7 linked regions of the Homo sapiens genome follow. The protein of the gene in region 6 interacts with the protein of the main gene of each other region in a pairwise test. Each region holds a gene or a part of one and is shown on either strand. Other genes may lie near its edges.

The links.
Region 1: the proteins of JPH3 (region 6) and RAB3IP interact in binary tests that used the Homo sapiens proteins (3 or more experiments, as listed by UniProt).
Region 2: the proteins of JPH3 (region 6) and SF3A3 interact in binary tests that used the Homo sapiens proteins (3 or more experiments, as listed by UniProt).
Region 3: the proteins of JPH3 (region 6) and GPR75-ASB3 interact in binary tests that used the Homo sapiens proteins (3 or more experiments, as listed by UniProt).
Region 4: the proteins of JPH3 (region 6) and MLC1 interact in binary tests that used the Homo sapiens proteins (3 or more experiments, as listed by UniProt).
Region 5: the proteins of JPH3 (region 6) and RASSF8 interact in binary tests that used the Homo sapiens proteins (3 or more experiments, as listed by UniProt).
Region 7: the proteins of JPH3 (region 6) and KIAA0408 interact in binary tests that used the Homo sapiens proteins (3 or more experiments, as listed by UniProt).

The regions. Positions count from the first base shown.
Region 1 is NC_000012.12:69,755,860-69,759,359, forward strand, and holds part of RAB3IP (rab-3A-interacting protein isoform alpha 1), read left to right. Parts: intron 1-545; coding exon 546-804; intron 805-3,500. UniProt on the Homo sapiens protein: Guanine nucleotide exchange factor (GEF) which may activate RAB8A and RAB8B. Promotes the exchange of GDP to GTP, converting inactive GDP-bound Rab proteins into their active GTP-bound form.
Region 2 is NC_000001.11:37,980,023-37,983,522, forward strand, and holds part of SF3A3 (splicing factor 3A subunit 3), read right to left. Parts: intron 1,790-3,500; coding exon 1,707-1,789; intron 703-1,706; coding exon 564-702; intron 1-563. UniProt on the Homo sapiens protein: Component of the 17S U2 SnRNP complex of the spliceosome, a large ribonucleoprotein complex that removes introns from transcribed pre-mRNAs.
Region 3 is NC_000002.12:53,695,968-53,699,467, reverse strand, and holds part of GPR75-ASB3 (GPR75-ASB3 protein), read left to right. Parts: intron 1-3,500. UniProt on the Homo sapiens protein: Probable substrate-recognition component of a SCF-like ECS (Elongin-Cullin-SOCS-box protein) E3 ubiquitin-protein ligase complex which mediates the ubiquitination and subsequent proteasomal degradation of target proteins. Recognizes TNFRSF1B.
Region 4 is NC_000022.11:50,064,927-50,068,426, reverse strand, and holds part of MLC1 (membrane protein MLC1), read left to right. Parts: intron 1-3,500. UniProt on the Homo sapiens protein: Transmembrane protein mainly expressed in brain astrocytes that may play a role in transport across the blood-brain and brain-cerebrospinal fluid barriers. Regulates the response of astrocytes to hypo-osmosis by promoting calcium influx.
Region 5 is NC_000012.12:26,052,682-26,056,181, reverse strand, and holds part of RASSF8 (ras association domain-containing protein 8), read right to left. Parts: exon of another isoform or gene 3,186-3,500; intron 947-3,185; 5' UTR 839-946; coding exon 736-838; intron 1-735.
Region 6 is NC_000016.10:87,693,008-87,696,507, reverse strand, and holds part of JPH3 (junctophilin-3), read right to left. Parts: intron 1,872-3,500; exon of another isoform or gene 367-1,871; intron 1-366. UniProt on the Homo sapiens protein: Junctophilins contribute to the formation of junctional membrane complexes (JMCs) which link the plasma membrane with the endoplasmic or sarcoplasmic reticulum in excitable cells.
Region 7 is NC_000006.12:127,452,890-127,456,389, forward strand, and holds part of KIAA0408 (uncharacterized protein KIAA0408), read right to left. Parts: intron 1,213-3,500; 5' UTR 1,093-1,212; coding exon 958-1,092; intron 1-957.

The sequences.
Region 1 (3,500 bases), on a different chromosome or scaffold from region 6:
TTGCAAGCCATGCAGTCTCTGTTGCAACTATTCAACTCTGCCTTTAGAGTTTGAAAGCAGCCATAGACAGTATGTAAATGAATGAGAGTGGTTGTGTTCCAATAAAACTTCATATATGGATGCAGAATTTTGAATTTCATTTAATTTTCATGTGTCACAAAATATTCTTTTAAAGATTTCTTTTCAACTATTTGAAATTGTAAAAACTATACTTGGCTCATTGATACCTTATAAAAACGGGTGGAAGGCTTGGTTTAGCCTGTAGGCTATAGTTTGTTAACCCCTGCTCTTGAGTAGCACTGTCCTGTAGAACTTTCTGTGTTGATGAAAATGTTCTATTTCTGTGCTATCTAATATGAATGATAGGTATTAACCACATGTAGCTATTGAGCACTTGAAATGTGGCTGATATGACTGAGGACATACTATTTATTTAAATATAGAAGCTACCAAATTGGGTAGTACAGTTCTAGAGCTGTGTGTTTAAGCCAGTTCTATTGGAGCATATGCTGATATTTTCTGAAAAATGTCTCTCTCCTTTACAGCTTTCATGTTACAGACCCAGCCCCTTGCTCTACCTCTGGAGTCACAGCTGGATTAACTAAATTAACTACAAGAAAGGACAACTATAATGCAGAGAGAGAGTTTTTACAGGGTGCTACTATAACAGAGGCTTGCGATGGCAGTGATGATATTTTTGGGTTGAGTACTGATAGTCTGTCTCGTTTACGAAGCCCATCTGTTTTGGAAGTTAGAGAAAAGGGCTATGAACGATTAAAAGAAGAACTCGCAAAAGCTCAGAGGGTAAGAAAGAAGATATTTTATTCTTCCATATATTATATTAGAAATTAGTATTTCTCCATGGGGTGGGGCAACCTGCAGAAATGAAATCATGATGGTTGTACATTTATCCGTCACATATGCCCAGCCTCAGCTCCTGTTAGGCAGCATTTAGGAATCCGTGAAACTGGTTGGGTAGTAAAGAAGTTCCTCTAAGACTACTAACTGGAAAAATGTGGCTCTGTTAACTCTTCTGTGCCCCACTGCATTGCCTGCTCCCTGTCTCGTATTATCTGTAATGCAGATTGAGTGGGCTATATTCCACATGCAGGGTTTTTCCTTCTTACTACATGGCTGACTAAATGGTTATTTACTTGAAGTCACTCAGTCTAAGTCATTTTGTTTTGAGTTTAAGCTGAGTTTGAATATTTTCTGTATCTTACCTTGGAGAATTTTCTTGGTAAATTGTTGTGTTTCCCATTTGGTCATTTTAAAAGTTTCTGCTATTTATTTCCAAACTTGTGGCCATATCTTATTCTTTTTCTGAGTCTGCAGTTAAATTTCAGAGGAAAATTTATAGAATGAAATGCATACATCAGAAAACAGGAAAAGTCTCAAATGGACAATCTAAGCTCCCACTTTAAGAATCTGTAAAAAGAAGAGCAAAATAAAACCAGAGCAAGTAGAAGGAAGGAAATAATAAAGAGCAAAAATCAATGAAATTGATAACAGAAAAAATAGAGAAAATGAGTGAGACAAAATGTTGGTTCTTTAAGAAGATTAATAAAATTGCAAACCTCTAGCAAGACTGACAAAAAGAAGACAGATTTATCAGTAGCAGGAGTGAAATGCAGGATGTCACTGGAGACTCATATCAAAAGTATAATGGAATGATATGAAAAACTGCATATATAAACCTGACAACCTAGGTGAAATACCAATTCACATGTAGAAAATTGAGAAGGTAGGGCAAACATTTATAGGTGTAATATCCAACCTACCATGACATTTCACAAATGTATTCCCACTCTTTCCCTAGCATACTTGTCTCTCATGAGCGTAGTATATTCATTTTTTTAATCCCCAGTTCCTTCCCAAAGGAAAAGGATGTGGTGAGATGTGGTTGCATTTTGTTTCTGTCATCTGGCTCAGACTTTGTTGTCTTAATAGATAGTATTTTATTAAAATCACACATTATATAGAGGTAAAATTTTGAGTATATGTATCCATCTTTGAGAACACATGGTTATTGATCAGAACAGATTGCTAATTTCTTAGCTCACTTGAGAATTTCCTTTGAAATCTCTAATATGCTGTATTTAGAGATACTGTTTGGATAATTGAAATGGTGATGTGTAAACACATATGTGGTGACTTTTATGAAGAGTATAAGTTAGTATTAATATTTACTTAGATCTCAAGGCTTGAAAAGGACTCTTGAATATAAAAATACTTCCTGAATTGTGACAACTTGTGAATCAAACTATGTCAACAGCCATTTTCTTTAGTCTTATCTTAAGAGAGGCCATTTTCTATACTTTTTACTTACTTGGTTAACTGTGTCTTCCTATTTAATACGAGTTTCTTATAGATAGTGTACAGTTAGGTCTTGTTCTTTTGATCCTTTGTAATTATCTCTGTCTTTTAATTGGTGTTTAGACCATTTACATTTAATGGATAATGGTATAGTTTGGTTTAAATTTACCATCTTACTGTTTGTTTTCTGTTTGTCTCATTTGTTCCTTTTTCCCTTTTGTATCCTTTCTTTTGAATTAATTCTGTATTTTTAAAACAATTTCATCTTCCTGTGGCTTTTATCTTTGTTGCTTTAGCGTTTATAGTAGACATATTTAACTTATCACTCTCTACCTTCCGGTGATATATTACTTTACATCTGGTGTACAAACCTTACAAAAGTATACTTTTATTTTTCCCCTCCTAGTTTTTGTGCAATAATTGTTGTATGTTTCACTTCTTTGTGTGTTTAAACCCCACAAAACACTATTGTTTTGCATTAAACAGTATTATCTTTTAAAGAGACTTAAATAATAACAAAGAATCTTTACATAGATAAACATCAGAAATGTTAGCTACATGGGCATCTGTGTGTTCATTCCTTTTTTTTTTTTTTTTTTTTTTTTTACAAGTTTTACTTTTATTTTTGAATGATAGTTTAACGGGGCATACAATTCTAGGTTGATGGTTGTTTTTTTTTTTCTCAACAAACACTTTCATAATTTTACGTCTTTGTCTTCCGGCATCTATCATTGTTGATGAGAAGCCAGCTGTCAATGTAGTTGTCATTCCTTTGTAGATAATTGGTTTTCTTCCTCCTTCTGGTCACTTCTAAGATTTTTTTTTTTTAATTGATCATTCTTGGGTGTTTCTCGCAGAGGGGGATTTGGCAGGGTCATAGGACAATAGTGGAGGGAAGGTCAGCAGATAAACAAGTGAACAAAGGTCTCTGGTTTTCCTAGGCAGAGGACCCTGCGGCCTTCCGCAGTGTTTGTGTCCCTGGGTACTTGAGATTAGGGAGTGGTGATGACTCTTAACGAGCGTGCTGCCTTCAAGCATCTGTTTAACAAAGCACATCTTGCACCGCCCTTAATCCATTTAACCCTGAGTGGACACAGCACATGTTTCAGAGAGCACAGGGTTGGGGGTAAGGTCATAGATCAACAGCATCCCAAGGCAGAAGAATTTTTCTTAGTACAGAACAA
Region 2 (3,500 bases), on a different chromosome or scaffold from region 6:
CTCTTGGTTGGCAGGAACCACATAGCAGTAATGATGTGATTGGTGAAAATCTGGGCACAGTCAAAGGCAAGTGGACCCTGGCAGTCTTGCTCCAAAGTACACTCAAAAAAACTCACATACGGCCAGGTGCGGTGGCTCACACCTGTAATCCCAGCACTTTGGGAGGCCGAGGTGGGCGGATCACCTGAGGTCGGGAATTTGAGACCAGCCTGACAAATATGGAGAAACCCTGTCCCCACTAAAAACACAAAATTAGCCGGGTGTGGAGGCGCGTGCCTGTAATCCCAGTTACTCGGGAGGCTGAGGCAGGAGAACTGCTTGAACCCGGGAAGCGGAGGTTGAGGTGAGCCGAGATCCCGCCATTGTACTCCAGCCTGGGCAACAAAAGCGAAACTCCGTCTCCAAAAAAAAAAAACATAGCATACTTGGCAGGGAATACCTCATTGTCACAAGTGATACCAAGGAATTGATACCTAATGCCCTAAAGTGGAAGCTCAAGATAAAGGAAAATAATTACTTCAATTCCCTGGCATGTCCACCATTCACATCCCACTGAAGCTCACCGGCCATCCAGGAAAGGTCCCATTCTCCCATTTCTTCTCAAACTCAGCCTGAATCTTCCCAAAAAGTTCATTCTGATCTTGGAGAGGCTTCACTCTATCTGTGTAATCCTGAAGGTACTCAAGCAGCATCTCTAGGTATCTACAGAGGAACACACAATGCAGACAAAGCAAAAAGGGTTTCTATTTTTGGTATCTTGTTATTCCCTGCAGAATATAAAGTACTTATAATTCTAGTAATGCTATCTTTTTAATACTCTTTTTTTTTTTTTTTTTTTTTTTTTGAGGCAGAGTTTCGCTCCTCTTACCCAGGCTGGAGTGCAATGGCGGGATCTTGGCTCACCACAACCTCCGCCTCCCGGGTTAAAGCGATTCTCCTGTCTCAGCCTCCCGAATAGCTGGGATTACAGGCATGCGCCACCATGCCCGGCTAATTTTGTATTTTTAGCAGAGACGGTGTTTCTCCACGTTGGTCAGGCTGGTCGCGAACTCCTGACCTCAGGTGATCCGTCTGCCTCGGCCTCCCAAAGTGCTGGGATTACAGGTGTGAGCCACCGCGCCCGGCCAATACTCATTTTTAAATGAACTTACAATGGACTTTTTTCCCAACATGTCATTTTGATTCTGACCTTTCCCGCCTCCTTTTATTCTCATAAAATGATGCTAAATACTAAGGTCTTAATTACTTTGCACATAAAAGATTTCAGTAAAAAGAAAATGAGAAAAAGAGGGGAAGGGTATAAAATCACTAATCAGGAGAGTAATTAACAAAAACATAAATTTTTCACTTATACATCACACCTAAGCATCTCACTTCAGTCACTATCTGAGAAAGTCTAATTTTTTTTCCCATTAAACTCCAAAAACACAGAAATCCCAGAGTGGGAGAGTTCCTTCTATAATGAGACAAAATTAAGAACACTATGGGCATAAGATGGAAGATGTGCCCACAGACACACCTTTGTCCACGTCCAGACTATCGCAAAGGTTTTAAAACCACATCATTCATAACCCCATCCTCCAATAAACCTGGAAGTATGCCTTCATGTATGCCTTCCAGGCAACAAATTCAGAACTTCACCCTCAAAAACTTCACATTATCTTCTAATCAAATCCAGGAGAGGCCTAGAAACTATTAATGCCTACCTCTTATACTCTGCATTCTTCCTTTCTTTAGGAATGTCAAATAATTGGTCAAAGATGGACAGGTATGTGATATAATCCAGCTTCTGAAAAGAGGAAAGAAATGACAAGAAATTCAGTTAGGTATTTATACTGTAACAAGTTACAATATAATCTCCAATAAGTGAGATCAAAATTGAGTGTTTTCTAAAGAAGTAACAAGGGCTGGCTAATTTTGGTTTTTTTTGCTTGCCTATCATTCAATCCTACTACAACTGGAGTGTTAATTTCACTGGACTGAAGGAAAATATCAGACATAATAACTTTACAAAATAAAGATCAAGTTAATGAACATTAAACTAAAAGAAACGTTTGTCGATTATTACCTCATGCTAGGGTCTTGGTTAAAGACTCTGACACCCTAAAACAAGGTGCTCAAAGGTGCCATTTGTTCACGCAAGTAACTACTTATTAAGCATCTTTGTACCAAGTACGGGGTACAGAAAACAACAAAACAGACAAGGGATCTGACTTGCCTGCATGGAACTTGAAGTTTGGTCACTACAACTCTGGGACATTTCTTCACAATTCCATGAGGAATCTAATCATGGATTTCCTTGTGATCCTTTTGAGATTGTCATATTAAACCTCATCTCTTGTGATAAGCTATTTTTTTTTTTTTTGAGACGGAGTTTGGCTCTTGTTGCCCAGGCTGGAGTGCAATGGCATGATCTCGGCTCACCACAACCTCCACCTCATGGGTTCAAGCGATTCTCCTGCCTCAGCCTCCTGAGTAATTGGGATTACAGGCATGAGCCACCATGCCCGGCTAATTTTTTCTATTTTTAGTAGAGACAGGGTTTCTGCATGTTGGTCAGGCAGGTCTTGAACACCTGACCTCAGGTGATCCACCTGCCTTGGCCTCCCAAAGTGCTGGGGTTACAGGCGTGAGCCACCGCGCCCGGCCTGTGATAAGCTATTTTTAAACATCTTTAAGAAAAGACATTAAATACCTTTTTGCTGACTGAAAGATCATGTTGTTTTATTTTCCATGTACCTAGTATTGTTTGTGTCTAAAACAGGAACACCTAGAAGAACACATAAATCTGGGTGGGCACAGTGGCTCATGCCTGTAATCCCAAGGCTTTGAGAAGCTGAGGCAGGAGGATTGATTGAGTCCAGGAGTCCAAGACTAGCCTGGACAATACAGTGAAACCCTATTTCTACAAAAAAAAATTTTTTTTTTTGAGTTTGAGTTTTGCTCTTGTTGCCCAGGCTGGAGTGCAATGAATGACACAATCTCGGCTTACCGCGACCTCCGCCTCCTGGGTTCAAGCGATTCTCCTGCCTCAGCCTCCTGAGTAGCTAGGATTACAGGCATGCGCCACCATGCCCAGCTAATTTTGTATTTTTAGTAGAGACGGGGTTTCTCCATGTTGGTCAGGCTGGTCTTGAACTCCTGACCCCAGGTGATCTGCCCACCTTGGCCTCCCAAAGTGCTAGGATTACAGGCGTGAGCAACTGTGTCCAGCCAGGAACATGGTATTTATTTAAAAAAAAAAAAAAAAAAAAAAGAATTTAAAGAAATCTTATGTAAGGCTGGATGCAGTGGCTTCCGTCTATAATCCCAACACTTTGTGAGGCCAAGACAGACGGATTGCTTGAGCTCAGGAGTTTAAGACCAGCCTTGGCAACATGGCAAAACCCCATCTCTACACAAAATACAAAAAATTAGCTGGGCATGGTGGCACACGCCTGTAGTCCCAAGTACTTGGTGGGGCTGAGGCGGGATCCATCACTTGAGTCCAAGAGGTCTAG
Region 3 (3,500 bases), on a different chromosome or scaffold from region 6:
TTCTACCAAAGCTATTAACTCTGATTCGATATGACTTGCCCAGTACTTTCAGCCTTCATGCTCCTTTCTGGTTTCTAATTTATTTATTTCTGTAACCAAAACATAGAAACTGTCTGATACCTACTGCTGTGGTTTGAATGTGTCTCAAATTTCAGGTGTTGGAAACAGTCCTCAAATTCATTTGTTGATGATATTTGGAGGTGAGATATTTGGGAGGTAATTAGGATTAGATAAGATCATCAAGATGGTGCCCCAGTGATGGGACTGGTGGGTGGCTTTATAAGAAGAGAGACTGGAGCTGATATGCTTTTGTTCTCTCACCGAGTGATGACCTCTGCCATGTTATGACACAGCAAGAAGGCCCTCATCAGATGGGCCCCTTGACTTTGGACTTCCCAGTCTCCAGAACTGTAAGAAATAAATGTACTTTCTTTATAAATTACCCAGTCTCAGGTATTGAGTTATAGCAACAGAGAATGGACTAAGACAGAAATTTGGTACTGAGAAGTGGGGCTGTTGCTCATAACGATTACCTAAGAATATAGAAGTAGCTTTCGAACTAGGTAATGGGTAGAGGCTGGTAAAGTTTGGAAGAACAGTCTAGAAAAAGCCTATATTTCCGTAAATGGAGTGTTAAGGGTGATTCTGGTGAGTGCTCATAAGATGAGAAGACTAGGAAAGTCTCAACCTTCTTAGAGATTATTTAAGTGGTTGTGACCAAAATGTTGATAGAAGTATGGATAGCAAAGGCCATTATGACAAGGTCTCAGATGACAATTAGCAATACCCTGTTGGAAAGTGGAGTAAAGGCCATCCTTGTTATTAATTAGTGAAGAACTGGGATGAACTGTGTCTATGCCTAAGGACTTTATGGAAGGCTGAATTTAAGAGTGATGAACTAGGCTATCTGGTGGGAGAAATAACTAAGTAGCAAAGCATTCAGGCTGCTGCATGGCTACTTGTGGCCACTTATAGAGAGATGTGAGGGCAAAGGAATGACTTAGGACATAATATAATTAGAAGGGAAGAAGAGTAGAAAATTTTGGAAAATTCTCAGCCTGGCTGTGTGGAAAAGAATGAAAGAGAATTTTCAGGAGAGGAACCCAACGTTGTGACTAGCAACCCTTTGCTGAGCAGATTTGTACAAATAGAAGATATCATCAAGACAATTAGAAAAAAACCTTGAAGGCATTCCAGAGATCTTTGAGGCTGTCCCTCCCATCACAGGCCCAGGGCTCTAGGAGGTCAGATTGGTTTTCAGGAGGGTTTGTGGGGTGGTACTAATTCTGTAGGCATGTAGAATGCAAGAGCTGTGGGGGCATGGATTCCTCCACCTAGATTCCAGAGGTTGTTGAAAACAGTCTGGGGGCTCAGGCAAGAGACCTGTCCCAGGAGAAGAGCCACTGCAGAGAGCCTTTCTAGAGCAATGCCCAGTAGAAATATAGGGTTAGAGCTGCCACAAAGTTTCTACCAGGGCAATGCCTAGAGGACCCATGGGAGCAGGGCTGCCATTGAGACCTCAGGACTGTAGAGCTACCAGCATGAAGTGCCATCTTGGGAGAGCTGAAGTCTGAGCAAAGCCATAGGGGCGCCATAGGGGTGGGACTGAGCCTAGCAAAGTCATAGGGGTGGAGCTTCCTGAGGTAGTGGAGGCTCAGCCTCCATCCCAGTTTATCCAGGAAGCCCTGAAGTGGAGTCAGGGAAGATTATCTTGGAGTCTCAAGGTAATCCTCTTGAATTTTGGACTTACTTGGGTCCTATTACTCTTTGCTTCTTGGATATGTCTCCCTTTTGGAATGGGAATGTTTGTCTTATGCCTGTCCCACCATTGAATTTTGGAAGTAGATAACTTGTTTGATTTCACAGGCTCACAGCTGGCAGGAATTTAAGGTAAATTATGCCTTGAGTCTCATCCCCCTCAGATACCAAAATCTATGTGTTACTGGAAAGGGGTCCCAATCTAGACCCAAGAGAGGGTTCTTGGATCTCGTGCAAGAAAGAATTCGGGGCAAGTCCATAGAGTAAAGTGAAATCATGTTTATTAACAAAGTAAGGGAACAAAAGAATGGCTATTTCATAGGCAGAGCAGCAGCACAGGCTGCTGAGCTGCTTATACTTATTGTTACTTCTTGATTACATGCTAAACAAGGGGTGAATTATTCATGAATGAATTTTCCAGGAAAGGGGTGGGCAAGTCCCAGGACTGAGGGTTTCCCCCTTTTTATACTATAGGGTAACTTCCTGAAGTTTCCATGGCATTGGTAAACTGTCATGGGGCTGGTGGGAGTGTCTTCTAGCATGCTAATGCGTTATAATTAGCATATAATGAACAATGAGGATGACCAGAGGTCACTTTCATCACCATCTTCGTTTTGATGGGGTTTGGCCAGCTTCTTTACCAAGTGCTGTTTCATCAGCAAGTTCTTTGTGACCTGTATCTTGTGCGGACCTCCTGTCTCATCCTGTGACTAAGAATGCCTTAATTTCCTGGGGATGTAGCCCAATAGGTCTCAGCCTTATTTTACCTAGCCCCTATTCAAGATGGAGTTGCTCTGGTTCATACACCTCTGACACATGGATGCTCAAGTCCCTTATATAAAATAGCATAGTATTTGTGTCTAGTCTATGCACTTCCTCCCATATACTTTGTCATCTCTAGATTACTTATAATACCTAATGCCTTATAAATGCTATGTAAATAGTTGTTGTACTGTATTTTAAATTTGTGTTATTTTTTATTGTTGTATTGTTATTTTTCATTATTGTTGTTAGTATTCTCAATCTACCATTGGTTGACTCTTAGGATGTGGAGGGCTATCTATAGTTCTATTACTCAATTTTAGTAATCCTTAATCCCTTGCCTAACCTGAGGGATTTGTGCCAATTTTTCTTGCTTCTTCCTGCTCCTAAATTAGGAAAAACCTAAGCAGGGGGAAAAAATCAAACATTGCCTATTTTCCTTTCCTCCCCAGCCAACTAAATGGACTACTTGGAGGCAGAAGGATTTATTTAGCTTTATTCTCTTAGAAGGCTTTGTAATTTATCCCCCCTTTCCCAATTCTGATACTGCTCCCCCATTTTCCCCCACTTGTGAACAGTTGAGAATTTTTGTCGCAATAAGCCATTGGGTGTGTGCTGTATTTATCGGATATGTGAAATAGAAAAGAATTAAGAACTAGTAAAGTAGAAACTATTTTGAAGTAAGTTGTGAAACTTTCGGTATTCTGAATGCAGAATGCCAATTACATGTTTTTTACTCCTGAGGAGTAACTTTGGTTACTTTATATTCATTAGAAAAAATACAGTGGAAAATTTAACTTTAGCAATGAAAATGCTTAACATGGTCAAATTTTTGTTCACTGATCTTTTTTATTGAATGGGTAAAGCCAATGTTTACACTGCATATGATAAATGTTTTGCTTTCTTTGATCAAATTTACATTCAAAGAGCTATTATAAGAAACATTCTATAAAAATTCCAATATGTTGTTAAAGTAGATT
Region 4 (3,500 bases), on a different chromosome or scaffold from region 6:
TGTATTTTATTTCAGAGCCCCCCAGACATGTGGTGCTCTGCGTGTTGGCCTGGCCCTTGCTGGCTTTGCCTGGGACTCTGGGGGCGCTGGCTCCAGGGACAGCTCCAGGAGGCACCTCCTCCGCTGTTCCTGGGCAGCGGTGACCGTGCTCCCCAATGCCAGCCTGGCCCCAGGGCCTCGGGGCCTCGATTCCGCCCTGTATCTGGGGCCACCACCTGCTTCACAGGGACCTGGGACCCACTCTGTCCCTGAGCCCATTTTAGAATCTGTCCTGGGTTTATGAGACATGCTTTTCGGATTTGCATCAGAACTGCATTGAGTTTAACAGGTGAATTTAAGGAGAATTCAAAGTCCTGTTACTTTGAGCTGACCCAGTAGGAGCTTATCTCCAACACGACTTCTGAGGCTCAGGCACGTGTAGCTAGATGTATTTCTTAGATACCTAGTGTTTTTTTGTTTTTTTGTTTTTTTTTTTCCAGTATAAGTGGTTTTGCACCCAAATCATTAGAAGACCTGTATTAAGCTGTTTGCTCCAGGTCAACATGCGTGTGCTGATGGGGAATGGAGTCACTGCCTGATGGGGGGATGGAGTCACTGTCTGATGGGGGATGGAGTCACTGTCTGATGGGGGATGGAGTCACTGTCTGATGGGGGATGGAGTCACTGTCTGATGGATGGATGGAGTCACTGTCTGATGGATGGATGGAGTCACTGTCTGATGGAGGATGGGGTCACTGCCTGATGGGGGATGGAGTCACTGTCTGATGGGGGATGGAGTCACTGTCTGATGGGGGATGGAGTCACTGATGGGGGATGGAGTCACTGCCTGACGGGGGATGGAGTCACTGCCTGACGGGGGGATGGAGTCACTGCCTGATGGGGGGATGGAGTCACTGCCTGACAGGGGGATGGAGTCACTGCCTGACAGGGGATAGAGTCACTGCCTGATGGGGGGATGGAGTCACTGCCTGACGGGGGATGGAGTCACTGCCTGACAGGGGATAGAGTCACTGCCTGACGGGGGATGGAGTCACTGTCTGACGGGGGATGGAGTCACTGTCTGACGGGGGATGGAGTCACTGTCTAATGGGGTAATGGAGTCACTGTCTGATGGGGGATGGAGTCACTGTCTGATGGGGGCATGGAGTCACTGTCTGAAGGGGGATAGCGTCCTCGGCCTCCCACAGGTGCTGGGATTACAGGAGTGAGCTACAACACCCGGCCCAGGGTTTTTTCTTCACTTCTCTTGTGTTTGCTTCACCCACTCCTACTCCAATTATTTTGTTTCCTGTGACATTTAATATATCTCCTACTTCATGTTGTCTTACAATATGCATATAATTGTTCACGATTACAAGAGACAATATTACCACCCAGGGGCCATCTCCTGAGTGAGCCTGAGGCTTCCCTTTTATCTTCAGCATGCATTCTGCTAGCAGGGGACGGCCACACGCCATCGAAGTCGGCCCCTTTCTGTGTGGGGTTATCCTCTGGGTTCGATACCCCATTAAGTTTAATGGCCTCTGGTTGTATTCCATTTTAGGGCTTGGTGCTTTTTTTCTTTTTAAAATGGTATTTTTTGAATATATAAAATATTTATGTGGTTCAAAAGCCAAACTATAAAAGACGAGCTCAGAAAAGCTGTGGTCTCATGCCTGACTGACCTGCTCCTCTTATGGGCAACCAGATGATAATTTTTTTTTCTTTCTTACAAAATAGCTTGTATACTAGAATCACTATTCTGTACCTTGCCATTTTTTTTTTTTTAAGATAGAGTCTCACTCTGTCTCCCAGGCTGGAGTGCAGTGGCACAGTCTTGGCTCACTGCAACCTCTGCCTCCTGGGTTCAAGTGATTCTCCTGCCTCAGCCTCCGGAGCATCTGGGATTACAGGCATATGCCAACACACCCGGCTAATTTTTGTACTTTTAGCAGAGACAGGGTTTCACTATGTTGGCCAGGCTGGTCTTGAACTCCTGACCTTAAGTGATCTGCCTGTCTCGGCCTCCCAAAGTGCTAGGATTACAGACGTGAGCCACCGTGCCCAGCCATATACCTCGCTTTTTAGTTATGTATTTATTTATTTTATTTTTCAGAGACAGGGTCTCACTCTGTTGCCCGGGCTGGTCATGAGCTCCTGGGCTGAAGCGATCCGCCCACCTTGGCCTCCCGAAGTGCTGGGATTACAGACGTGAGCCACTGTGCCCAGCCATGTACCTCGCTTTTTAATTATGTATTTACTTATTTTATTTTTCAGAGACAGGGTCTCACTCTGTCGCCTGAGCTGGTCATGAGCTCCTGGGCTCAAGCGATCCGCCCACCTTGGCCTCCCAAAGTGCTGGGATGAGGAGGCTTCTGCCACCGTGCCCAGCCCCTTGCTTGTTTTTTTAAACTTAATAATTTATCCTGGTGTTTTCTCGATACCCAAGGGGATCAGAGCTCTTCTGAATTCCTTCATCGCTCCTGACTGCCCGGTCAACCCAGCCAGTCCCTAGTGATGGAAACTGAGTTATTTCCAACCGTCTGCTACTATAAATAACTCCTCCGTGAACAACCTGCACGCATCTTCCTTTTGAATCCTCAGCGCATCTTTAGGATATCCAGCTAGGAGAGAGACTGCTGGGTAGAGGGTAGGTGCAGCTGTCATGCTGATAAATCTCGGCGACCTCCTCAATGGGGGCCGTCCACCTTCCCTCCTGCCAATGGCGTGAAGGTGCTCACTTCTCCACAGCCCCCCACAGAGGGTGTCACGCTGGAGTTCGGTGACACGGGTGGGAGCACCTCCGTCTCAATGTGGGTGAGGACGAGGACCTCTTACAAAGCATGAGGACGTCTGCATTGCTTTTTCAGTGGACTCTGCTCATGTCTCCTGACCATTTTCCGCTAACCCTGGTGCCGGGGGAGACCAGCTCCATCTGTGATGGAGGATACAAATGGTGGTCTCAGCCTGGCGGCTATTTCTTGTTCTGCTTGTTGTGATTTTTGTTATGTGAAAGCTATTTTTTTAAATAGTTAAGTTGATTAATATTTTCTTTAATGGCTCTGGATTTTTTTTTTTTGAGACTGAGGAAAGCATAGGCTTTGCAATAAATGGTGTCTCAACAACCGAAGAGCAAAGACCACATGGGGCCCATGCCTTTACCATCCTCCAGGGTAAACTCCAGCTGGGAACACAAGTACCAGACTTTCTAATAATTACTTAAAATCCAGGCCGGGCGTAGTGGCACATGCCTGTAATCCCAGCAGTTTGGGAGGCCGAAGCAGGCAGATCACCTGAGGTTAGGAGACCAGCCTGGCTAACATGGTGAAACCCCGTCTCTACTAAAACTACGAAAATTAGCTGGGCGTGGTGGCGGGTACCTGTAATCCCAGCTACTGGCGAGGTTGAGGCAGGAGAATCGCTTGAACCTGGGATGTAGAGGTTGCAGCGAGCCGAGATCGCGCCACTGCACGCCAGCCTGGGTGACAGAGGGAGACTGTCGCAAAAAAAAGTTTTATGTT
Region 5 (3,500 bases), on a different chromosome or scaffold from region 6:
AGACCGAGTTTCGCTGTCACCCAAGCTGTAGTGCAGTGGCATGATCTTGGCTCACTGCAACCTCTGTCTCCTGGGTTGAAGCCATTCTCCTTCCTCAGCCTCCATAGTAGCTGGGATTACAGGTGCGCACCACCACGCCCGGCTAATTTTTGTAGTTTTATTAAAGACGGGTTTGACCATGTTTGCCAGGCTGGTCTCGAACTCCTGACCTCAAGTGATCTGCCTGCCTCAGCCTCCCAAAGTGCTGGGATTACAGGCGTGAGCCACCATGCCCAGCCAATCATAAGATTTTAAAAGTATACATTATCTTTCCAGTGAAGAACGATGTTATTTCATTTGTTGTATTTTCTGAAAGTATGGAGAAATAAACAATAGGTGGGATTTTTCCTAATGAGGGATTCTGGGAACTAAGAATCTAAATTCTTAATCTGGGTCTAAATTTTGGCTCATGGAAACATCTTTAGTTTCAGAAGTCACTGTTTAGGCTGAACAACAGGAGAGGAGAAGGCAGTGTAGATGTTAACTCAGGGTTAGTAAAATCTAGGGGTGTCAGAGAACAAGCATCATCACAGATGTACCTAAACACAGGCAAACTGTAATAAGTACAAGAGTGCCTGTGAGACTTATTATGGAACCAAATGAACAAAATCCCCTAGAAATCTATATTTAAAACAAACACATACAACGAAAGAAAGCACAATGTACTTTTCTCAGATACCCACAGAGTTCACTCACCTATTGCTTGAGCTAAGGCTATGACAACCTCCTGGCAAGTTGTGACTTCAGTGACTCCACAAACAATCCTCTGAACTCCATCCACCCATACTTTAAGTTCCATGGTGCACCGGCCAGTCACTCAAGGTCCCTGAGAGTGGTCATCAGGGTGTTAGGTCATGTCTCTAGCTGCAGGAACACGGAGTGGAGAAGACTAAGTCTGTGTAGTCAGCTAAAAAAGGGCAAAAAATCACTTGTAATAAAATGAATCAACATTTCTTCTAGTAAGTATGTAAGTATTACACAAAACAAATTTTAACATATCATAATCTTACTGAAGTACACAGGCTTATTTTACAGAAATGAATTAAGCAACACAAATGCAACTACAGTCACCTATCATGACAGTGTTTCATGTTACAACTATTTTTATCATAATTTTAATCATGAACTCATGCTCCATTACATTAAAAATTCCTATTTAGTTGCCAAGCCCTATTCAATATATGCGCTGTTTTTCTGTCCTGTTTTTTTTCTTTTTGGATTATTTCATTAGGATAATTTCTGAGGCAAAACTAAAGAAAAAAAGTTTGTCATTTTAGGAATTATCAATAAAATTGAACCACTTTGCAGTGTGCAGTGTTTTGCCAATACTATTAACAAATTTAAGAACAGTTGTCAAAGTATCTTACTCAGCTCACATTCCTGATTTAAAACAAACAAACAAACAAAAAAACTGCTACCTGTCTGCCTTCCTAATATTTTTTTCCCTTATTATTTCATTCTCTCTTCTCATGTATGATGTCTTGACAACTGTTTTAAATGTGTCCCTTGCCTCCCTCTCCCCACAGGACAAAGAGTGTCTTCCCGCTGAAATGCCAACACCAGGCACAGCATGAGGGCAGGTGGGTAAAAAATCTTAGTCAAAGGAAACGAATTCCTTTGACGACCAACAGTTTCCTCATGTGTGAACTGTTTATCCTTTTCTCATTTAACTGGGTTTGATAGTTTTCTTAAATTACAAGAGTTATTCAAAAAATATAAACATTAACCGTTTGTTCTACTTGCTGTGTTTACCCAGTGTTTGATTTTGTATTTGGCTGCATTATAAGCAAAGCAGAAATTTTTACTTTGTCATATAGTCAAACCAAATATTCTTTATTTCCTGTATCGATAAGAATGTTACTAGCCTGCTAAAAATGATCACAATTCTTTTTCCTGTGGGTTTAAAAAAACTCTCAACTCTTCCTATGTAAATTCTCTAATCAATCTGATTTTTTGTTTGTCCATTGTTTTGTGGTCTTCCCACGTCTTTGTTGTTAAAATTCATGAGATATAATAAACATTGATTTAATTAAGAGAACATTTGGATTTGTTTATAGGTTTACAGTGGCACTGGTATTTCAGAATTAATGGCTTATTTAAAAGCTTATTTTAAAAACACTAGAAATTTTTCTTGTAAAACAGTAGTTACTACAAACAGTGGCTTAGTCCCTTGCACATTCTTTTAAAAGACCTAAGACAGTTCTAGGCCATCTGGTCACCTGGATAGGTAAGTCAGAACACATGCAAGGGGAAGGAGAATAAACCTAATTATTTTCTCCAGAGAAGGTACACAAATCCTTTTTGTCATCCTAAAAACAAGAAAGGCCTGGCTGAACATTAATCTCCTAGCACTTTGCTTTAGCTCTCTGCATATGACACAGCATAGGTTTCATTATCCCCTGTATGAAGAAAGAAGGGGCCACCTTGGCAATGACAAGCTGATTCCATAACTGTGCTCCTCAGTTATGAGGGCCTGTGAGATGTTAAAGTTCCTGGGGATAAAGGCTTCCAAAGTTAAAGAAATGTTAAGAAAGCCAGTAAATAAAGTTAAACAAGTTCCTTTACAGCTAGACTTCTCTGAGACTTTAATAGGCTGGTGTGCACTCTAAATTTCAAAGGAGAGTTTTATATGCTGCCCAATCTAGAGAACATTTAAGAAAACAGAAAAGTTCTGACTTGTTTCCTCTTCTGCGAGGCACTCTACTTACTAAAAATAGAATATGTTTTATTCTTTCTTGGGATAAAATTAAGGTATCAAAAATGGCCTAAGATTAATATATTGCTTTATTAAATTTTTGTAAAAGCTGGATTAAAGTCTATTTAAAGTGCCTTCTTATTCATTAAAATATCTTAAACTTGGGAAATCAAGCAAGAAAGGGTACAGATCTCATTAAAGCCCCCCTGCCACCAAGAAACCCATCATTTCAAATGATTCTATAGGACTTTTTTTTTTTTCAATTGTGGAAGAAAACATAAGATCTATCCATTTAACACATTTTTAAGTACATGATACAGTATTATTAACTACAGGCATCATGTTGGACAGCAGATCTCTAGAACTTACTCATAATTGTGTAACTGAAACTTTATACCCCTTCTACAAGCAACTGCCCATTTCGCCCTGTCCGCAGCCCCCAACAACCTACATTCTATTCTGTTTCTATAAATCTGATGTTAGGTATCTCACAGACGTTTTATATTCCTTTTTAGACTTTAGCATACTGCCACATATTTTCCTATCTGAATTATCATTGTTTCACTTTGAACTTTTAGTCATATATTGAGTCATTAATTCAACATAGTATTGGAAATTCAGGCCAGGGCAATCAGGCAAGAGAAAGAAATAAAGTGTAGTCAAATGGGAGGAGAGGAAGTCAAGTTGTCTTTCTTTGCAGATGACATGATCCAATATCTGGAAAACCCCATCGTCTCAGCCCAAAATACTCCACTCTAGGAGCTGT
Region 6 (3,500 bases):
CACGTCTTTTCACCAAGCTAGCAGACCCTCGGGGGTGGAAGCGTACGGGAGGATGTTAGAAACGCTTGGACACCAAAGGCCCACCAGAACCTGAGCTCCGTGAAGTCCAGACGCGGGAGAGAAGCCCCAGCTGCCTGTACGTCTGAGGTTGCTGGTCCTGGAATTCCCTTGGAATTCCCTTGTGGCCCCGACACCCTGAGTACCAGCTCTCCCAGGGTCCCCTTGGAGAGAACCACCCAGGCCTCCCTGCAAGCAAACGTCTCGGTGCGTGTGGCCTTTGTGCCAGTCAGCAGGCTTCTCCTGCCCTGTGGAACTGGGACCTCAGAATCTCAGAAGGGCCCGCATGGCTGCCATGGCCAGTGTCAGATGCAGCCCAGCAGAGAGGCCCTGGAACTCAGAGGACTCCCAAAGTCCGTGAGCACAGTGTCCTCAACAAAACCCCCCCTCACCACACCTTCCTCAACAAACCCCTCACGCCAACTGGCTCTGGAGGACTGTGTCCAATTGCGAGCTGCCTTGGATTTAGGTTATGGTCCTGAATGCTGCTGCCACCACCTCCCTGAAGTGGCTCACAAGTCCTCAGCCTCCGCCGGAGCCCCAAGTGCCAGACTCCCCCTTCAGCCGCACAGCCTGGGCACTCGGACCAAGCTGCCACCTTCCCTGTGCTTGCCGGGGCCAGGTAGGACACGTCTCACAACAGAGCCTTTTCCGGGGGCGCCCTTCTGCAGTGATTCTTGCAGTCCTGCACTCTGCTGTGTTCTGCTCACACCAGGCAGGGGGAGAGGGAGCGTGGCCCCTCTGGGAAGCTCCCAGGACGGCAGGGGTGGGTGCTGCCCTACAGATACAGTACCTGCTGCACAGGGAATGGACGCCTCCTGGACGGTGGCCCCAGCCCAGGAATGGCTGGGACACCCACTCCAGTCTTGCCCACAGTCTGCTTCCAGAGGACACTTGCCCCTGCCTCTCCCCACCCCCACCACGCCCTGCATCTCGCAGCCACCTGGAAGGAGATGTAGACCCCACTGTGGTAAGGAGCTGTTCAGAGCCCCCGGAGCCCTCCACTTCCTACCACGCAGACATCCTGCTGCTGTGCGACACAGATGGACCAGGGCTTGTCCTGAAGGTCCCAGGATGCACATTCCTCAGGGATGGCTACTCTCCTCCCCCTCCCTGTTAACAGACTGGTTTTCCATGGACTCCTTTAAGCCCCCAAGTCTGGCCTCTGGTCAAATTTCAAAGACATGATGGGGTGGTCTGTTAAGACTGAGTAGCTCATGTGGCACCAGGTGAGGGCTGCTCAGGCCTGCATTAAGGAGGGGAGCCCGAACAACGGGCCTCCCCCTTCCCCCCACCCACAACGAAGCAGCTGCTGCTGGCTCCTCTCCCAGAGACTGGAAGAGAATTGATGAGAACACCGGGGACCCAGCAGTTCCACTCCCAGGCCTAAATCTAAGAGGGCAAAGTCAAGCCTCCACTCAAAACCTTGTGTGTGCACACACTCCCGGCAGCAGGATTCACAACAGCCACGGAGTGGAAGCAGAGCCAGCTGTCCAGTGGAGGATGAACACACAGCGGGGAAGACATGGGCCGTGCAACCGCGGCTGCCACAGAGAAAGCGCAGGAGCAGTGCATGCTGCGTGAGAAGCTGGGCACCAGGCAGAAAGCAGAGTCCGGGAGCTGGGGGAGGAGGGGACAGCAAGTGCCTGCTCAATGGCCCTGAGGTTTAAGGTGATGGAGCTGATCTAGATAGAATTGGGGGTGATGGCTGTATAACTGGGAATACACTAAAATCCCTGACTTGTACACTGTGGCCACCTGAAGTGAACAGTACACGCTTTCTGTCTCAGTAAAGCTACGCAAAGAACAGCAGACATCCCGCATGAAGTCAGCTCTCCAGGGCCGCACCATGGGAGCTATGGGCTGGCAGTGGCCGGCTCTGCTCTTGACACACAGGAAGGATGCAAACTCAGAGCCCCAGTGGGGTCACGGCCTTGCCCGGAGAACTCCCTCTGGGGATGGCAGCCTGCCGTCCCCTTGCCTAGCCTGGATGCCACATCCCGCGGCAGCGAAGCAGCCTCCTGCTTGACCGTCTGGCCCGGGGACCCTTTTGTCTCCTGGGTCAGTTTCATTCTTTCCCCAGGCTGTGCTCCTGATGAAGCAGCATCGTAGCTGATGTTGAAGGGCCTCACGCCAGCACCTAGGCTGGTCTTCCCTGGGTGCCTGCTTGAGCACGTGGCCCAAAACAGCCGTTGCATGGGGCACTCAGAACCCACCACACCCTCGCCCCTTCCCAGCCCGCCACCCTGTGGCTGAGGCCCTGTGCCTTGAGCAAGCTGCTGCCCCTCCTCCTCCTGGTCCAGTTCTGCCCACACCTGGGTGCCCACCTCCCCTCCCTGTGGTCTCCAGGAGCTGCCCCCAACATGCCCTGGGCAGCAGTGCTCATCGTAGCCCCGTCTGTGGCCTGGACAGGCTCTGACCACTCCTGCGTTGGCACAGCTTCCTCGGGAGGCTCCTGCCAACACCACTCGGCACGGTGGGCTCAACACGGCAGCGGCAACGGGTGGGAGTACTTGCCTCTGCCTGGCCCGAATGGCGGTTTTCCATTTGGATTTGGGGATGAGCAGCCAATGAGCCTATCTCATTCCCGTTAACGTGAGAGAAACATCCAGACGCTATCCTCAGGTCTCACACACCCCCGCCGTGCTCTGCACCACACCTGGCAGGGGCACCCCCGACTGTATGCTGGGCATCAGCTCCCAGGCCCGAGCGCCTCACCTCACACTGGGGATTGGAGCCCTCAGGCCCTAGAGACACTGGCTTGAGAAACTTTTGAGATGGAGTCTCGCTCTGTTGCCCAGGCTGGAGTGCAGTGGCATGATCTCAGTTCACAGCAGCCTCTGCCTCCTGCGGGTTCTGGAAATTCTTGTGCCTCAGCCTCCTGAGTAGCTGGAATTACAGGCGTGTGCCACCATGCCCGGCTAATTTTTGTATTTTTAAGTGGAGACAGGATTTCACCCTGGTGGCCAGGCTGGTCTCGAACTGATAACCTCAGGTGATCCACCTGCCTCGGCCTCTCAAAGTGCTGGGATTATAGGTGTGAGCCACCGTGCCTGGCCAAGAAACTTTTTAAAGAAAAAGTTTGCTCAACAGATAAGCTGAACCCCAGTCAGCAAAGGGCTTTGTAAACTGTCCTTGGGATGCAGCTCAGAGAGGAGGGTCCTCAGAGGGTGAGGTGCTGCCTAGGGGGCACCTGCAGCCACAGCAGCACCAGGCCCACACCCTCCGCAACCTCCCAGCCTATCAGGGACCTGAGGCGCAGATGGAAGTGGAGTTGTGGACACAGCAAGGGCCTCCACTCAGCCAGAGAGAAAGCAAGCTGCCCTGAGCCCAGCTTTCCGTGGCATCGTGGCCTCAGGCAGGTGTATTGTGAGTCTTGGGCCCCATGACAACTTGGTTGGGCCGGGCCAGCCTGCAGGGGGCAGAGAACAGCCAAGGGCCCA
Region 7 (3,500 bases), on a different chromosome or scaffold from region 6:
GCCTGCCTTCTCAGCTCTATTTTAGAGGAAGGGCTTAATAGTTACTTTTCTTCAGCTTTCTTCCTACTATGCCAATTCATATTTTATTCACAGTCAATTACATGGCTGTTAATAAGAAACATGACTGTACTATAAACACATAAAGCACTTACTTTGCCTGCAAAAAAGGCCAAGAAGTCTTAAAATAACAACTTTGGTAATGTGCATAAAACCATATAAAGTCAATACTAAGGATGTTACCAAAAGAAAGCAAGATAAGCATAAATTATTTCCAATTGGTGCAAAAGCTTGAATATACATCAATGCAAATGCTTGAAGGAAATATTTCAGGGTCAACGGACTGAGGGAGGGTTAACGGGAACAAAATGACTGTGTCAGAGTCGTGATATGTCATTTTTCATAACTCCTTTTCCAATAAATATGCCACTAAATGTGCACACCTTGATAGAATAAATCTCATGTCTACTGCCATTTTCTGTTTGATATATGATACTCCTTTTGATTATACTGCATTATCTAACATGTAATTTCCTTTAATAGACATTACTCATAAATCTTCTTAGGAAAGATCTATGTTCTAATGCCCAACTATAATTTTGCTAATCTATGTCCCACCAAGTATATCTTTCTTGCATTTTACTCCTGGACCTGGTATTTGAAAATTCATGCAAAATACATACCTCACTTTTGATAAAAAAGCTCTCTAGCCAGAAAATAATAAGTTGAAACATTATAGAGTGACATTTCAAATGCTTAATTTTCATGCAATGATATAAAATAATCCTTACAATACCATTGGATAAGATTATGCTATTTTTGTTCTAGTAAATGTCACTGAGAAATGTACCTCTTAGGTCGAATAAGGAAATCAAAAACAGTTTCCAATACAAAACAGCCCACAGAATTTTCATCCTGCACTTAAACATTACAGTATATCCAAAACAAATTAAAGTGTACCTCTTCTATTTTCTTCTGCATAATCTTCCATTGACTTTCCCATTCCTTTCTTTCATTGTCAAACTGGTCCAGTAATTCCATCTTTTCCTTATGCCAGTTAGTCTCTGTGTTCTCCCACTGCTTATGTAGGTCCATGGCAACAGTGTAAGTGTCAGCAAAGAAGTGTTTCTGCTCTTCTCTGCCTCCTCTTAACTGTTTCTTGGAAGCTTGAAGTTGTTTTATTTGAAGCAGTCTCACTTGCCTTTAAAATAAAGCCTAATATAAACATAACAAGAGAGAGTTCCAAATCCATGTGCTTTCTGGAAATATATTTTATCATTTTGTCGAGCCATTGACATAAACAAACTATAGGAAAATTGGACTCAAAAGAAAAGAGATGACAACAGTCTACTTAAGAAGAAGAAACTAACACAGTCAATAAAGTAATAAGTATTGTCCAAAGTTTTTTTCCCTTTCTGAGACCAGACAGCAAAATTATAGTGGACAAGATGATTAAATGCGCATGTGAGATGTAATCATCCCTTTAACCACTTACTCTAAAAATAGATTTTTTCATGAATAAGAGTGTAAGTATACAATTCAAATGTATGCTCACATCTACACACTGTGACAGATTCTGCTGCAATAAAATTATTCTTTCTGTTCTGATGCAACCTGATTATATATTCTTATGACTTAAATTCCTGAAACAGAGCTGGTTTGCAGTCTTAATTCTATATTCAGAGATCAAGCCTGTGCCAAATGTCATTACTGTGTTACTTATGAAGACCCCAAAGTTGGTAGTCAACTTAGGACTGATGTATCATCCAGAAACTAATCTAAATTATAAAAAATATATTCATTATGTCACTTCATCAAGGAAAATCTAGAAGCATCAAAACTATCCTGTGAAATATACGTTAAAATTTATCCATGCTCTCTTTTCCTTTGAATAGGCTATATACCATAAACTGCTTAGGATATTGAATACAGGGAACTGAAGAAAACATTTTGCTCAGTTTTCAGGGAATCCTCTATTACATTAAGTAGTGACTGAAATAATTAACTTTCTAGCCTTCAGGGACGTGTACTTAAGGTTTGAAGTCAGAATTTAAAATACCAGCTATGTAACTGGTATAAGTCTAAAATTTCTGGGATTTAGTTTTTTGCATTAAAATGGGGATAGTCATAGAACTGTTAAAAAGATTAAATGGCATACTGAATGCAAAGTAGTTTGAGAAATTTAAGAAAGTTTTCTATTTTTTGCTTTACAAAATTTCATTGTGACTTCAATTAAAAATAATTTTGTATTAAATAAGTCATGTGCCTTTTTAGGGGGTAGAAAAGCATGTTTAAAATGTTTGAATCTCTGTTTAAGATAATTATGCCTATAAGATGTCTAACTCTTCAGTCACTAAGCCATTATCAAAATGCTATAACTTACTGGTGGCAGCTAATGCTAATTACGGACAAAGATCCCAACAGTCAATAGCTTTGTGGGTGCTGGCACTGCCGAATTAAGGCCACATACCCAAGCAGCAAGTGCCAATTTTGTATTCACAGAAGATAACTGCATATTTCAAATCCTAAATATCAGCTAAATATCGAACACTAATTTTATTTTTGTCAGACTGTTGTGAACATACATATCTGACTAGTAAACAGTTTTGAATCTGTATTTTTTGAGTCACGATCAATGAATTAGAATAGAATAAGAAATGAAAAATGTTAGCTATATATGCAGGGTTCTACCTTCAAAACACCCTAATAATTTTGGGATCTATATTGTTACTTTACTCTCAAACTATTTACTAAAGATATTTTGATAATTTTTTCCTATGTCTTTGGCACTAGCACTATTATGATTAATTCAGTCACGAAAAATACATAATTTCATATCTGGCTATTAAAGGTGCTATCATATCTCATTTTATCCATTTGGCCATGCTCAATTTCTGACCTCATTTCTCCACCTCCTCTGTCACCCCTTTCTTTGCTATCTTTCCCACATATAAACCAGTAACCACAAGTACTTGCCATAATAAATGTCAGTGAAGAACAAATAAAATAAAGATGGTAAAGAACATACAGAGTTTTGGTTTTTGTTTGTTTTGGCTAATCTAATTTCCATTGATCTTGATCTTGAATACCTAGTAATCTTTTAGGTTCGTCTAACAATTCTTCATAGGAAATGCAGACAGTGCCTGTCTTGAAACTAGCAGACTGCTTTAAAACTATACGTAATTAACTGTGTGGTGAAACTACCTTGCTGACTAGAAAGTATTTGCCACTGGAACTTCTTAGGAAGAATGGTGTGGTTTGAGATAATAAGAGATAAATGCAGATTTAACCAAAGAAACTAAAAAAGGATGCAGACTAATTTCAAGCTACCTGGAAAAGAGGAGCTATGATAAATCCATGTTTTATCCCAACTGTCTTTAAACATTGGAAATGTTCAGAAATCACCATAAAGTCTTTTCTACAATTATGTAGCAAATGGCTCCAATTTTTCCTTCTATTCCTAACTCTTCTTGAATCGCTTCCATGCTACTGTTGAAAGATGC